Linked DNA regions of Homo sapiens. The protein of the gene in region 2 interacts with the protein of the main gene of each other region in a pairwise test. Each region holds a gene or a part of one and is shown on either strand. Other genes may lie near its edges. The genes, in order: TMEM65, CYBRD1 and VAPA.

Region 1 (3,753 bases), on a different chromosome or scaffold from region 2:
GGCCAACCTGGCAAAACCCCACCTCTACTAAAAATACAAAAATTAGCCAAGTGTGGTGGTGTGTGCCTGTAGTCTCAGCTACTCAGGGAGGCTGAAGCAGGAGAATCGCTTGAACCCGGGAGGCAGAGGTTGCAGTGAGCCAAGATCACACCACTGCACTCCAGACTGAGTGACAGCACGAGACTCCGTCTCAAAAAAGAGAAAGAAAACTAATACAAAGTCTTACAGCTTCTACCCAGCCCCCTTGGAACATTTTCTCTGGGATCCCTGACCTAAGTATTACAACCATGCTAACATTGTCATGCTGGTGAGGCCACATCCATCTCCTTGGGTCAACAGTTCCAGTTGAGGCCAGCCCTCCAGCCATCCACCAAAGTACCAGACACATAAACAAACCGATGTTGGACCTTCTGACCAGACCATCAGCCAGCCAAAGTTTATGTAATGACCTCCATAGATACCATAAGAAACAGCATCCAGCTGAGCCCTGCCTATATCCTTTTTTTTTCAATTTTATTTTTTTATTTCCTATGAACTCTGTACCTGCAACTGCCTATATTCTTGATCCACAAAATCATGAGCTATGATAGAAGGGTTGTTATTTGAAGTCACACGTAACTCTGGACATGTTATATGTAAGTGATGATTAAACACTGTTAAACAGCATATATGCCTTTCATAATGGAAAAAAAAAAACTTTACTTGATTACTTGATTATCTGTCTTCTACTGGCAGTAATCCCTAGTAATAAGACCATTCCAACATACCCCGTAACTCTAAAGAACTCAGAATTAAGCTTGCTGAAATATACTACTGTAATTAGGTTCTTTCCATATTGGTAAAATAACTGATTGTAGCAAAGCTTCATTTAACTGAGTGTAACTCAACTTATAGAAGCCCATGGCTCATCAGAGATCTCTCACTCCTCTTGCCTCAATTCATACTTCTTATCCACGTCCTTGTTCTTCCCCTCTTGCCGGGCCTAGGTGGGGCTATACTTCCCTTATTCCTTTTTACTATCTCAACAAAGGCACTGAAATATCTTTATTCACGTATCTTTATTTGCAGTATAAAATGTTTTTCTTGCCCTTTTTCTTATTGGACAAAAGCAAACTATTCCCAATCCATTCCAGAGGCTCATAGCTTAAAATAATTTATATTTAGGCTAGGCACGGTGCTCACAGCTGTAATCCCGGCACTTTGGAAGGCTAAGCTCGGTGGATCACCTGAGGTCAGGAGTTCGAGATGAACCTGGCCAACATGGTGAAACCCCACCTCTACTAAAAATACAAAACTTAGCCAATCACAGTGGTGCATGTCTGTAATCCCAGCTTCTCAGGAGGCTGAGGCAGGAGAATCGCTTGAACCTGGGAGATGGAGTTGCACTGAGCTGAGATCGCACCACTGCACTCCACCCTGGGCAACAGAGTGAGACTCTGTCTCAAAAAATAAAAAAAATTTAAGAAAAGAATTTCTATTTTCTCACATAATCCTGAGCAATGGGCTGAAAAAAAATAAGGATAATCTTGTTAAAGGTCCAAGATCTCTAGTGAACAGGGATTCCATAAGAAAGCCTAATTTATTTTTAAGTGTTTTAGATACTCAATTTAGTATAAGCTCTTTATCTTTCAGTCTTTCATTTTGTCAACGTCCTCTTATACTATATGGCAAGTTCTCAAAACAAAGCTCTTCACCCTACCTTAAACAATCACAAAAAATGGGGGACTACAAGATTAAAGTTTAGAATTATTTGGTTAATGTATACAGACGTAGATAAATGGTAAAAAATGTCAAAAGCACACAATTACCACTCACATAGAGTAATCAAAAAATGCAAGCTAATTGAGACCTAACATTGATAGAAAAACTGCTCTGTTCACCTCAATACATCTTTTATTTGCTATATGTAAAAACAATCTCATTTTTTAAATATCTTAAGTATACATATTATAACAAAAATATTCCCTAAGAGGCTCCCTTTTTCAAAACATATCTCTCATTGTACCTCTCCAATAGCCAGTTCTTGTCTCTCTGTGTAAACTCTCTGATGAGCATTAATTACACCACCTTAAATAATGTGGAAGCCAACCTCAAAGATGTACCCCCGATGATTCCCACTCCCTTGTATTCACACCTTGTGTAGTACTCTCCCACAATGTGTCAGGACAAAAGAGATGGACTGTCACTTCGAAGACTGCGTTTTAAAAGTCTGTGGCTTATAGTATACATATTATAACAAAAATATTCCCTAAGAGGCTCCTTTTTTCAAAACATATCTCTCATTTTACCTCTCCAATAGCCAGTTCTTGTCTCTCTGTGTAACTCTCTGATGAGCATTAATTACACCACCTTAAATAAGTGTGGAAGCCAGCCTCAAAGATGTACCCCCGATGATTCCCACTCCCTTGTATTCACACCTTCTGTAGTACTCTCCCACAATGTGTCAGGACAAAAGAGATGGACTGTCACTACTAAGACTGTGTTATAAAAGTCTGTGGCTTCCAGCTTAGGTGCCCACAGGTGCTGTCTTGCAAACACACTCGCTCTCTCTTGCTCTCTCGCTCTCTCATCACTTGCTCTAGAGGAAACCCACTGCCATGTCATGAGAATACTCAGGCAGCCCTGTGGAGGACCACATGGGAGGGAATTGAGACATCCAGCCAACAGCCATGTGAGTGAGACTTCTTGGAAATGGATCCTCCAGCCCCAGTTAAGACTTCAGATGATGCCACCCCAGCTGAGAGCTTGATTTCAACTTCTTAAGATCCTGGGCCAGAAATACTCAACTAAGATGCTATAGCATTCCTGAGCCTCAGAAATTATGAGTTAATACATGCTTGTTTTAAGCCACTGTGTTTTAGGATAATTTGTTATACCGCAATGGATAACTAATACAATGAGCACTGTCTATTTTTCAATACCAAATTGCTATATTTTAAAAGCTTTAAAAAATAATTATAAATGGAAATATTAATTACAAAAATTGGGAAGAAAATTTGTTTTAAAAATTTTGGCTAACATTGAAAGGCCACTGTAATAATGTCAGCTTGCCAGTACTACTTGTAAAAACATGAATAATGCTCTATCAGCAGAATATGGTCTGTTTCTGGAAGAAGAGAGATCAGGCTGAGCAGGTAAATTGAAGGCGCAAACTCAACTTTTTTTTAAATTGGGAAAGAAATTGGTTTGTAATTTTAAAAATCACAATATTCTATTTAACTATGATAAGATATCCCACAAGGTCTGCCTTATCTATTACGAACTGATTCCAAAGCTTTATCTCATCACAGATTATATCACATGCCTACTGATAAACATATAAGAAAGATAAGGGCAAATGTGCCAAATTTCAACAGCAGATTCCACTGCCATATCAAAGCATGGATGATATTTTTTCAGTAACATTTCCATACCAAATCCAAAACACTTCATTAGTTTATACAAGCACCCTTTCCAAAGACACACAAGATTGCCTATGGCAAGAAATAGCCCTTTAAATAGAATTAATTTTGTTAGAAAGTACACTTAGTACACACACACAATACATCGGTTGAGTACTTCAAAACATTATTCAAAAAGCAACAATAAAAGAAAACATGGGAGTTTTTCATTTATCTGGCTGGAAAAAAATTGTTGATTTCAGCAATGGAATGAGCTGTACGCATTCCCAACATAATAAAATCCCTTTTACCTTAATGATTAATGAATAAGGTAATTTCCTAAGTGATGATTCTAGTTATCTCCATAACTATA
Region 2 (3,753 bases):
AATCTACTTCACCTATTTACTTTGTACTCCAATCCTTGTTGGTGTGACCCTCTGGTTTAAAGAACTGGCCAAACTTCCATCAATTTAGTAAATATTCATTGAATGTTTATTATGTGTTGGGTAATGCTATGGATACAGCATTGAAGAAAACAGACAAAATCCCTTCCTTCTGGGAGTTTATATTCTAGTAGGAGAAGACAGACAATAAATTAATAGTCAGTGATCAGAATTTAGATAATACTGTATTTTGAATTCAGAGTCTATAAGATTTTCTAGTGAAATGGCTGAGAAGTATGGAAGAGAAGAATCACAGATGACTGCATAATTTCGTCCTGAACGACTACAAGGATAAAGTTGCCATTTACTGAGATGGTGGAACCTATGGGAGGAGTTGGTTTTGCAGGCATGAGGAAGATCAAGAGCTGAGATTTGGACATGCCTATCTGATATTCAAGTAGAGAGTTTGAGTAGGCAAACAGATATTTGGATTTGGAGTTCAGGGAAGAGTCTGGGCTGAATATACAAATTTGAGAGGGTTCAGTGTATAGATAGTACTTAAAGCGAAGAAGAGACTGGATAAGATTGACCACCAAAGAAGTGAGTGTAGAAAAAAAGAAGTGGTCAGAAGACTGAGGCTTGAGCACTCTAACCTGCCGTCATCAGGAAGATGAGGAAGAACCAGCAAAGGAGACTGAGGATGGGGCAGCCAGGAAAGAGAGAAGAGCCATGAGAATCAGGTGTCCTGGAAGCCACCCAACTTACCAGGTGAAGAAAGAGAAGCCAAGTAAAGAAAGTGTCCCGGCCAGACGTGGTGGCTCACACTTCTAATCCCAGCACTTTGGGAGGCTGAGGCGGGTAGATCACCTGAGGTCGGGAGTTCAAGACCAGCCTGACCAACGTGGAGAAACCCCATCTCTACTAAAAATACAAAATTAGCTGGGCATCGTGGTGCATACCTGTAATCCCAGCTACTCTGGAGGCTGAGGCAGGAGAATCGCTTGAACCCGGGAGGCAGAGTTTGCGGTGAGCTCAAATCACACCATTGCACTCCAGCCTGGGCAACAAGAGCAAAACTCCATCTCAAAAAAAATAAAATAAAATAAAGTGCCCCAAGGAGGAGTGAGGGGTCAATTATGTCAAATGCTGCCTTCCACTCAAACACTATTAGGACTGAGAATTGACCAATGGAATTAGTGACATGGTAGTCATTAGCTACCATATTAAGCACAATTTTGGTGGAGCAGGAGATGAAAACCTAATTGGAACCGGCTCGAGAAAGAACAGGAAGAAAGGAACTAGAAACTGCAGGTATGGACAAAAATTTCAAAAGTTCATAGTAAGGCAAGCAGAGAACTGAGGCAGTAGCTGAGGGATATACAGGGTCAAGAGTGATTTTGTTTTGTTTTGCTTTGTTTTGTTTTCGAAGATGATAGAAATTATAACATGTTGGAAATAAGCCAGTTGGGGGAGAAACTTAATGATGCAGAAAAAGGAGGGAGAACTGGGATGAAGGGAAGAGGAGGTACAGATTGTACTTAAGCAGCAACATTCTCATCAGCTAGAGGCCTCAGAATAAAGATGCGTTTCCAGTGCAATATGATGTCCATTCTTCCTGGAGGTTGACTAAGCCAGTGCTTTTAAACTGGCTGAACAGGAGAATCACTAGGGAAAAGCGAGGGTGTGTTTACTTTAGACACTATTGTTATCGTCACAAGTAAGTGGCTGTAAACTGCATTTTGTTACTAACAATTCAATGATGGTACAGAAATAATCACTCATTCATTCAACAACCACTTACTCGTCTACCATGTGCCAGTTCTCAGTGTTATTCTAGGTACTGGGGATATAGCACTGAGCACCACAGTCATATCTAAAACATTTTTATTGGTTGCATTATTTAAAAATCTATGTGTATTTATTTACAACAAAAAATATGTTGGGGATATTTTTTGTGGTTTTGGTCACAAAATTGCTTTAAATCATCTCTTTACGCTTTGTAAAAACCCTTGTATCGCTAATATTGATAGGATTTATTATCAATGGTGTCCCTGAAGCTTCTTTTAGAGTAGGTATTTGGGACACTTTCTCCGTTATCTTACTTGCTGGATTTTACCCCAAGAGCCTTTTCAAGTCTATTTAAGTAATCTTGGAATTTGGTCACTTTTAGATAAATTAATAGGATATCCCAACTGTTTTTTAAGAACTGCTCTTAATTTCTGTTAGTCTTTTAAATGTTACTTAAAGGTAGTTATATTATCTCACGAAATCAACTTGAGATCATTAGACTATTTAATTTCTCTCCCTTCAGTTTATACAATAAAAGGAGTTCTACACAGGAAAGGAAGGAATATAGAATTGCCAAGACTTCTTTTCGCTAAATGTAGACACCCGAATTTTCTACCTTTCACTAAAGAACACATTCCACCTTGCTGAACCTTTTAAAAGGTCAACAGCCACTTTGACAGCGTTTATTTGTTTCAGTCTTTTCTGTGGCCCTCTTTTCAAGGTTCGTTTCTCTGATTTCCTAGTAGTATACTTATTTCATGGGAAACATTTCTTTCAGAGAAGCACAAAGCCTCTTCTAAACCCTTCCTCATTCATGTTAGAGTCTGTTAGCTAGATTTCCCACTAGTTTAAAATTTTATTTTAGTTTTAGATTTCCCATGATCTGTTATACTTTAATTTAGAATATATACATATTCCAAAATATACTTGGAGTATGGGAGGTGGGGAGAGAGAGGGGGAAAGGAGGGGAGAGAGAGGGGGAAAGGAAGGGAGAGGGACACAGAGGAGAAAATGGGACAAGGAGAGAGAGGGTGAGCGAGAAAGGGAAAGGGGAATAAAGAAGGAGAGGGAGATTTGTTTTGTAACTTCTATGTTAGCTTTGCTTCTTTGGAGTTTATCCCTCTTTTTTTTTCGAGACAGAATCTCACTCTGTTGCCCAGGCTACAGTGCAGTGGCACAATCTTGGCTCACTGCAACCTCCACCTCCCAGGTTCAAGCAATTCTCCTGTCTCAGACTCCTGAGTACCTGGGATTACAGGTGCCTGCCACCACGCCCAGCTAATTTTCGTATTTTTAGTAGAGACAGTGTTTCACCATGTTGGCCAGGCTGGTCTCGAACTCCTGACCTCAGGGGATCCACTCGCCTCAGCCTCCCAAAGTGCTGGGATTATAGGCGTAAGCCACCGTGCCCGGCCAGAGCCTACTTCTTTTTTTTTTTTTTTTTTTTTTTTTAGACGGGAGTTTCGCTCTTGTTGCCCAGGCTGAAGTGCAATGGCAAGATCTCGACTCACCGCAACCTCCGTTTCCCGAGTTCAAGCAATTCTCCTGCCTCAGCCTCCCAAGTAGCTGGACTGTGCCGGCCCAGAGCCTACTTCTTAAAGGTGTTTCAAAGGACTCATACTTGTTCTTAGTTTCAAATATTGTTTACTATTTGTATATTGCATTTCTAAAGCATTTTATACTTAGAGTAATAACTGTACTTTAGCCTTCTCTTCTTCATCTCCAAATATTTGTGTATTACAGAAGAGAAGAACTCCAATACATCGTGTTCTTTGTTAGAGATTTGAAATCTCATAGCCTAAAATTTTCCTCCTTGCAGCAATCACACACGGTAAAAAAGTCTGTTATAACATGGCGAGTCTGTAACATGTGGGTCCCTCGCAGCCTATAAAGTTTATTTATTACTCCCCCTCCTTCCACTGGAGCCTTCCTAATACTTAGGGTGAGGAATGTGGATGGGTTGGCCAA
Region 3 (3,753 bases), on a different chromosome or scaffold from region 2:
AAAACACAGTTGAAATGAAAAGGCAACCAAAATACTTCAGAGTACTTCATTCTTCTATAAAATGTGTACACAGACCTGGGCCTAAAATACTTCACTGCACCACATCCAGTTCTAAAATCCAATTTCCTTTTCAGGTAGAGCGCATCTTTTAAAAAAAGAGCCAACACACCTATGTTTAAGAATAAAAATTCACTTGTACTAGATTGTATGTAGCTAAACACTGGATCTATTTTCTGATTCCAAAATTTTCTATCCTAGTATGAATAAATGAAGAATAGGACAAACCTAAGTGCAGGAAAGTATCAAACCCTGTAACGCATACTTATACTGAAAATGTGTTTCACATGGTTAACATTTGCAAAGGCTAAAATCATTTTTCATAAAGAAAATTCCACAGGCTTGCTCAGTATTACCAAACTTCCATAATGAACATTATTTTGAGTGCCAAATTGAGCACGAAAAAAACACCTACTTTTAACTATTATGAAATATTATGAAAAGTAGTAAGACTTATTTATTAGGCTGGTTAAAAAGTAATTTAAAACCAAAGAGAGTTAAATCTTCCTTGAGAACATACTCTCAGAACTTAAGAATGGGGTAAATCAGATGGAGCACAGCCATGCTGTACACATCAACTCACTGAAATCACATAACTTCTATTCTCATGGACCTTATTTTCTATTATCTTGAAAACAAACTGATTATAATCTCCCAAAATACCAGTGGTACCTTAAAATTTAATCAACTCCTTTCCTTAACAGAATTAGGACTTTCAATTAAAAATACTGTAATATCCAAGAGGGTTTCAATGCAAGAGAAACCTTTGCATCATAATTTCAAGTGACCATATATAGTGGAGTTCCCTCTAATAACACGACAGACACAAACAAGCTATCGAGCAAGAATCTGTTAACAGTTTTATTTTTTTTTATGTTAAATACCATGGGACAGGATTGTAAGGATGAAAAACTCAGTCAACAACTGCCTCACAAGGGATAAGAAAAATTCTGCCATGATATTAGCAAAGGTAAAGGAGGAAAAATTTACACTGTAAGAGGCACCATTTCCCCAAGGAATACCTCTTGGCATTTCCTGAATGAGTGGGATTAGCAATCTAAATAAATCATATTTCAAGAGGTAACAGCAACAGATAAAATTTAAAGGGATTATTAAAATAACATTTACAAGACTCTGAACAATTCTTGAACTCTTATTAAAACCACAAAGAAAGAACAATTCTTTATTTATGAATTTCATAAAGGACTCAATGTGCAACTGACATCTGCTAGTGATGATCTGGTAATATACAACCTGTCCAGTAGCCGAACAGTTTGTTTTTATTGTGTTTTCTAACCGTAAGAGATCATTAAAGGCAAAGCCTATATGACGCTGTACACACAAAAAAATGGTCACCGTGGGCCATACTACCAATGAAATGGTAGGTAAACAAATCTTTTTCTGGTCAAGAGAAAAAAAAAAAAAGAAACAGCACTCTGCATGCTTCACTCTACAAGATGAATTTCCCTAGAAAGAATCCAATGAAAATGGCTGCAATTACAACAAGAAGTGAAGGAAGAGGACTGGTGACATTATCTCTGAAGGATGCAGTTGAGGTTGATCCAGGTTTATCCGAATGTGCTACCTTTCTGAGCCTTAAACCTTCATCCTAGAAAAAAAACACACACACAAAAGGTTTTTAAAAACAAGCATACTAACGAGACTACTGGAGCTAAAAATCTATAGGGACGGAAAGTAGATTAGTGGTTGCCTATGGCTGGGGACGGAAAAGGGGATTAACTGCTAACCACATAAGGAAACTTTCCGGGGGTGATAGACATTCTAAAACTGAACTATAGTGATGGTTACAAAGTTCTATGTATCAATGAATTGTACACTCACAGTGGGTGTCTCCATGGGATATAAATTATACCTCAATAACACTGATTTTTTAAAACTGGAGCTGAGAAATGTATTCCTAAAAAGCAAAAGTTAGATAGGCTATATTTACCTTTTTTTAAATCCCACTAAAAATATAATTAAAGAAGAGTACTTCCAAGGTGGCCCATGGTATTTAAAATCAGTTACATCCGTCCTAGCCCAATCAGCCAAAAACTACCCAGACCTGTAGTCTGCCATTTGGGTTTACTGACACACTGCAACTAAGGAACCGGAACAGCAGAGGCACAAAAGGGTGTTCTTGCCGTAAACAGAGATATGGTATCACAGAATTTGGGGGAAGGAAACAGTTTAGCGTGAAATTTAAGTAACAGTGTTTTTATATGCTCAAAGCAAAGCAGAGGGCTGTGTGTAAAGTGGTAGCACCAGGTCTCGACTGCAAAGCAGAGAAAGAATACTGTTTCTTCAGAAACTACAAATTTAGATGAGAAATGTACATAGGAAACCCTTATCTGAAGCTCTGCACCTGGACTGGAAAATGAGGGTGCTTCTCTGTGTCAAAATGACTTAGATCCTCCAGTCAAGAGTAGGCTGCTTCATTCTTGCTGATATGGCTTCACACAGCACTATGTCTTTAGAGCAGAAGGTTTCTCAGAAGAAAGCAGAAGTCACTCCAAGCAGGAGGTTGTTATGACACTGTGTGCAATGTGAACCTTGGGAAAAATACTAATACCTGTTAACTACACAGTTGTCTTTATCTCTGTCTGTTAACCAATCTGATAAATGGCAGGACAGTTTTTTACTTTTTTCAGTACAAGGCAATATTTTCTCCCATGATTCCTTTATTGTGCTTATAAATAAACACTAACTAAAAGAGTACACCTAATGGCACAGTTTTATTTGCATTACTGGATTTTCTGGAGTTGGGTTTTTTTGGTCTCATGCTAATTAGTCCTATATAAACAGTAATTCTCAGTTTCAGCTACACATCACAAACATCTACAGAACTTTTAATACTCCTGTGATTGTGACTCATTAGGTCTGGGGCAAGCCTGGTCAACTGTAACTTTTTAAAGCTCACTAGGTGATTCACATGCAGTGTGAATTAAGAACCACAGGGCTAGGGGAATTAAAAGGGATAGTGAACAGACAGGAGCAAGAAAGTGAACCTGGCAAAAAATTATGGTGGGCCTGTGTATAGGGTCTGAAATTCTGTAAGCCAGTGGGTCTTCAAGGGTTTTGTTTTTTTTTTTTTTTTGAGACGATGTTTTGCTCGTCACCCAGGCTGGAGTACAATGGCGTGATCTCGCTCACTGCAACCTCTGCCTCCTGGGTTCAAGTGATTCTCCTGCCTCAGCCTCCCAAGTAGCTGGGATTACAGGCACCCACCACCACACCCGGATAATTTTTGTATTTTTAATAGAGACGGGGTTTCACCACGTTGGCCAGGCTGGTCTGGAACTCCTGACCTCAGGTGATCCACACGCCTCAGCCTCCCAAAGTGCTGGGATTACCGGTGTGAGCCACCCGCCCAGCCCAGCTTTTTTGTTTTACTTTTCCAGCAGCAGAATCATCTCTCAAATAAAATCTCATACAGAACACTAGCATAAAAAGAGTAGAAACCAGGAATAAAGTCTCTCTCACCTACTTCCCTGGTTCACTCTTCCTATTTTCCAGCCCTGCCCCATCTATGTCATTCTCACTGTTTCCACTTCTCCCCTCCCTGCCAGAGGTAAACAGTGGCTTTTGAAAGAAATCTATTGAGCACCCTAAGGAGCACATCTTTATCAAAGAACAGAACTATGGAAGTCATGGCAGATGAAGTAAAAGTAACCAACAACATCCTTTAAAAGATCC

The links.
Region 1: the proteins of CYBRD1 (region 2) and TMEM65 interact in binary tests that used the Homo sapiens proteins (3 or more experiments, as listed by UniProt).
Region 3: the proteins of CYBRD1 (region 2) and VAPA interact in binary tests that used the Homo sapiens proteins (3 or more experiments, as listed by UniProt).

What each region holds. Positions count from the first base shown.
Region 1 is NC_000008.11:124,366,030-124,369,782, forward strand, and holds part of TMEM65 (transmembrane protein 65), read right to left. Parts: intron 1-3,753. UniProt on the Homo sapiens protein: Essential for maintaining proper cardiac intercalated disk (ICD) structure and function as well as cardiac conduction velocity in the heart.
Region 2 is NC_000002.12:171,525,432-171,529,184, reverse strand, and holds part of CYBRD1 (plasma membrane ascorbate-dependent reductase CYBRD1), read right to left. Parts: intron 1-3,753. UniProt on the Homo sapiens protein: Plasma membrane reductase that uses cytoplasmic ascorbate as an electron donor to reduce extracellular Fe(3+) into Fe(2+).
Region 3 is NC_000018.10:9,951,966-9,955,718, reverse strand, and holds part of VAPA (vesicle-associated membrane protein-associated protein A), read right to left. Parts: intron 1,667-3,753; coding exon 1,508-1,666; 3' UTR 1-1,507. UniProt on the Homo sapiens protein: Endoplasmic reticulum (ER)-anchored protein that mediates the formation of contact sites between the ER and endosomes via interaction with FFAT motif-containing proteins such as STARD3 or WDR44.